2 separate regions of the Homo sapiens genome follow, and region 1 is linked to region 2. The links come from fine-mapping of genetic effects on gene expression. Tissue or cell type: regulatory T cells. Region 2 holds a variant in brackets; the other region holds the start of a gene. All regions are shown on one strand. Distances are from middle to middle.

What was found. PIP is the estimated chance that this variant, and not a neighbour inherited with it, causes the effect.
Region 1: INTU starts here. The variant in region 2 is fine-mapped to the expression of INTU in regulatory T cells (Schmiedel 2018, PIP 0.95).

What each region holds. Positions count from the first base shown.
Region 1 is chr4:127,631,896-127,634,395 of GRCh38, reverse strand. It overlaps INTU (inturned planar cell polarity protein), which reads right to left and starts at 1,439. Exons shown (of 16, transcript NM_015693.4): 1 at 1,216-1,439. The coding sequence starts at 1,361. RefSeq lists enhancers at 1,410-1,589, 1,252-1,791.
Region 2 is chr4:128,592,106-128,594,867 of GRCh38, reverse strand. No RefSeq gene overlaps it. Among named protein-coding and RNA genes, the nearest start is that of LINC03140, 23 kb to the right of the region's middle. The variant T/C (reference allele first, on the strand shown) is at 1,575.

The DNA of each region.
Region 1 (2,500 bases), 960 kb after region 2:
CTGGGCTAAAAGTATGCGACTCTAAAATGTGGAGAAGCCAAGAGTTTGAGTCTTACACTGTCTATGGCTTCACATACCAAGACCAAATAAGGTTCTATGTAATTCATATTTCCTTCCAGCAGCCTTGTGTAATAATCATGAATTTTAAAATTATTTTTTTAATGCCTACAGCAGATTACAAAAAAATACGATATTTTAAAATTTGTTTAAGTCTTCAAGAATGTATTAAACAGGTTTCCCCACCATACTTTTAAAGGCAATGATAAAAATCTTTTACATACTGATAGGTAAAAACAATTGCCAAATAACAGTTGCTCCTACATACATATAAATGATTTGTAACTGTTGTTCCTAAATACACATAAAATGTCATCCTAAAACTGACCAGGTATGGTTGTCCATTACTGGGTTAGTTGACATTTTGGCACCAAAACTTTTTCACGATTAGTCATTCTCTTCAAGCTACTGCTAGTTGACTTTTCTAAAGTTCTTAATCCATAGCAGTAAGGGGTAGATTTTTCTTAAAAATGAAGTAGCACTGAATACTGTGAATCAAAATAACCTTTTCATGGCATTATTAAGAAAGTGAAACCTTTAGGTATCTGTATTTTTAAAAATTAAATTATGACGTAAAATGGAAAACAAGAAAATCATGGAGATGCATAGGAAAATACAGCAGAAATATCCAGAAGTGCTGAGAGGTTGTCCTTGATGGTGAGACTATGGGTGGGCGTTCCTTCTGTTATATAGCTATTCATTTCCATAACAGAAAAAATCTACATAAATTTAACAACTGCCTTATAAAACGCGTAGGGTGTCTCTCCACTCCAAATACTAAAGAGATTAAGCCACAAAGGTCACACCAAAGAATCAAGACACTGCGATCGAAACAGAGTTTTTTGAACGCTGTTACAGATATATCCTCCTATGGCCTAGACAGAGCCCATGACCAAAAAGAGGAGATTCTCCTCATCTAAGAATCATTGAAAAAACAAAACAAAACAAACAAAAAACAACCTACAGTAGCAAAGAATGGCATCGTCATTTCTGCTCACACCACCATACAATGGAACGTGGTGCAATTAAATCCCACTTATTATAGAACCCCAAATACTCGATTCCAACCACGCCAACACCCTTGCAGTTCCCCCAGCCCACGTGTATATTCTCTGGATTGATGGGATGGGATTAATTGTCCCTCTTTGAAAACCTTACTCATAATCGCTACTCGCTGAGGAATATGAACCCGAGTCGCTGACCCGATCTTCAAAATCATAGTCCTCATCTTCTTCTTGTGAAGAGGGGTCTCCAGGGAGCTCGTCTGAGCTCGGACGCGAATCGCACGAAGCCACAGAGGCCATCGTCAGGAATGCAATAGCTACGAGTGGAGTAATTCAAATCTCGCAGCTATAGCTTGCTAAGGCCGCCATGTTGCCTCTGCTTGGGAAGGGGCAGAGGCCATGTGACCACCAATCCTTAGCTGCAATTGGTGGCAGGTCGCGTTGCCAGGGAGACGGAGAAGCTTCCCAGAAGAAACAGGGAGAACAGAAAGCAGCCAATGGGCTGAAACTTCCAGGAGGGCTTCTCAGTTGGAAGGATAGAAATAGCTAAAACTTCACCGCTTACGCTCTCCGGAACGCAATTCCTTAGAGCAGCATAACCTGTTAAAACAGGCGGAGATGCACTGGGCTTCTCACCTTTTTCTTCCAGTGCTGGATATCCAGTTTGCTCTTTGTCCTGTGTTTCTAATGCCTAACAGCTGTCGGTCAGCCTGGATTTCCTTCGAGGTGAAGGAAACCGCACTTTACCTTTCCTTAGGACCTCATCCGTGCAAGTAATGGACGCTTTTAAGCAACGCGATCTAGGTGTTAATGTAAATACGCTCCATTGTTTTATGGGTTTCATATTGTTTCGCAATTGCAAACATTTTCACGGTTATCCCAAGTGGGTATTGTAGAGTGCCACAAATGAGTGGCAATCCTGTGGAATCAACTTCATGTTCATTTTCTAACTCAAAATTTTATAATCTAATTAAGTGTTCTCATTATTAAAGTTGGAAGTGTAAACAGGTAAAATCTACCTGTTATTTATGAATACCTATATCAAGTATTTTTTAAGTACAAAAATAACAGCTAGCATTGATTGAGAGTCAGCCTTGGCTCTGCTCACTTTATTCATATACAATGCTGAGCATTCACATACTATGAAGTAAATATTTTCTCTATATTAAATAAGGAAACTAAGCTTTAGAGAAGTTATGCATCTTACTAATGGTTACATGGCTAGCAGTCAACAAAGTCAACCAAGAAATGAACCTAAGTCAATAACCATTACATGAAATTTCCTCCCTCAGAACCCAGTAATTCAACTATTAGATATCTACTCTGAGAAAGGATGCAAATTTATAAAATTTGTAAAAGTGAAAAGCTGAAAGCAATCTTAAAATGTCAAATAATGGGGGAAAAGTTAAATATATATAAAATATGATGATTATGATTTT
Region 2 (2,762 bases):
CAGTGGAAGGATCAAGGGTCAAGGGAATTTAGAATATAAGTAATATGTTCTGGATAGGAGGAAACTGAAGACAAAAGTGGTTGGTGGATGGGCAGAAAGGAAAGAGGAGGAGTGATGGGAGCAACAGAGTAAGCTGGAGGGAGGGGGATGTAGCCGGAGGGCAGTCATCTGTACTTGTTATCTCAGGGGGGATGTCCAGGTCTAGGGTGAAGCTGTGAGAATGGAAGGCGGAGATGGGGTATGGAAGATCACTGGAAGATGAGGAGGTCAGAGAACTGAGTGCTCAGTGGTTAGATGGGTCAGATAGAAAGAATATGAAACAAATGCCAGGCTTCAACGACTGAGGAGGAGTGAACAGAAAACCAAAAGAGAAGAACATCATGGAAGGGCAGTGGGGGCTTGGCCTGATGACCTGGGCCTTCAAGGAGCAGGAATCCTGAGGCAGATGTTGGTGATTTTTAACCTCATCCTTTCATCATTTTTCTTGCTGATAGAGCCTTCCTTCCCCATGGAGATCACATGTATGAGCTCATGACCCAACCCTAGCCAACAGGACTAGGGGGCAATAAGATGGGGGCTTCGGGGAAAGATTTTCCTCCTTGTTAGGAAATTGTAGGTGAGGAGAAATTGCACTTTCCAGTTTTGACATTATAGCAGGTTGAATAATTCCCCTGAGAGATATCAGGTGCTAATCCCTGGAACCTGTAAATGTTACCTTGTATGGGAAAAGGGTCTTTGCAGATATGATTAAGTTTAGGATCCTGAGATAGGGAGAATATCCTGAATTGTCCAGGTGGGCCCTAAATGCAGTCACAAAGTGACCTTTTAAGAAAGGGGTAGAGGGAGATTTGATATAGACAGAGAGAAGACACACACACACACACACACACACACACACACACACACACACACACAAAGGTAATGTGAAGGTGGAGTCAGAGATTGGAGTGATGTGGCCACAAGCCAAAGAATGCTGGCAGCTATCAGAATCTGGAAGAGGCAAGAAACAGATTCTCCACTAGAGCCTTCAGAGGGAGAAGAGCCCTGCTAACACTTTGATGTCAGCCCAGTGACACATCAAACCTCTGGCTTCTAGACCAGTGAGAGAATAAATTTTTGTTGTTTTAAGAACCAAGTTTGTGATATTTGTTACGGAAGCCATAGGAAACTAATTCAGATGTAGCAGTGAGGGATTTGATGACTGGAGTGGCAGCAGCTATCTTGAAACCATGAGGACACAAACCTGAGGATAAAATTAAATACAATATCCTGGAGAAGACAGAGTGGAAAAATGGAAAGACCTGTTGAATTAGCCACATATCACTCAACCTTTTGACTTCTTATCATGTAAGATAATAAATGTCTTTATTGTTTATGGCTCTTCTGGTTGGATATTCTGTTACCTGCAGCCACAAGCATTCTAATTGATACAGCCCTATCCAAAAGGGTAGGAGAGTCCTGGCTGGGAAGCAGCAGTGGGTACTAAGGAAGAAATCTGACCCACTTGCCAACTCTGACAAGAGTGCATAAAATGAAAAATGAGCAGCTCCCACTTGAGAGAGGAGCAGAACAGG[T/C]AACTTGGAGAGAGTCAGAAGATTAAGAAAATGGTTAGGGAAAAGATTGTAGGGATAGGGGCATTTGTTAATTATGCAACAGGCCTTTTCAAAGGCAGTAAAAGCTTAGGAAGAGGAAGATAATTGGGAGGTATTCTGAGAAAAGGTGTATGTGAATCATGACACTGTACTGTTATGATGAAATTATATAGAGTATAGGTGGAGTGGGGAATAAGGAGAGACTCGCACTTTGGACAATGACCAAAAAAAAAAAAAAAAAAGGGAAAATAGATACAATGCTTGTTAGATTTAACCAGCCCCAGGGTTGCCAAGAAAACATTTCTACCAATGCCAGGACCAAAGTAGTTTTTGAACTTTAATGTTTATAAGGTTCATGGAGTTTGTTAAAAATCTTAAACATTCCTAGGCCCCAGGACCAAGATCCTGACTCAGTAGATCTCAGTAGGGTCCAGAAATCTGCATTTCTAATGAGTATCCCAAGCGATTCTATTGCAATTGATTTGGGACCACATTTTGAAACACACTGTCCAAAACACTTGCTTTCACATGTTTTTGACTAAAATCTGCATTAAGAAATATATGTTGTGGCATAAGCCACATGCACACACCCACACATAGGCATGCACACACCCACAAGCACAAACGTGTGCACAAGGCAGGTAAAACAATCTGGCTTAACCAAATAGACATTTATTTTTCATTTACACAAAATCCAAAGCTGATGTCCCTGGCCAGGTGACTCCATTTGGGTGACATTCCTCCAAATAATGGCTCAGGATCCAGGCTGCTTCCACATGTGCCTCTGAGATCATGTGGCTTCAAGATTGTCCCGGTGTCATCTAGTGGCATACGGGAAGAAGAAAGCATGGAGGAGCCTGTGTGGGAGGGTTTTAAGGGCCATATCTGAAAGTGGCATATATCCCTCCAGACATACTCTATCAACAGGGTCTCAGTCACATGGCCGGTTGTCGAGGCTGGGAGAGGTAGAGGAGCCCACAGGTCCTGGTAAGCACCATCAGACTCTCCACTGTAGACAGACTGAGATGTGTGTATTTAACCAAGACCAAAGTTTCACAAAATAATACTCCTATCACATCCAAATCCTCTGATAGTTTTCTGTTTTGTTCCATCCCATTCTTTTCTAGTTTATTTTTCAAAACGTCAGTCTTCACAACTAAATTGATCTCA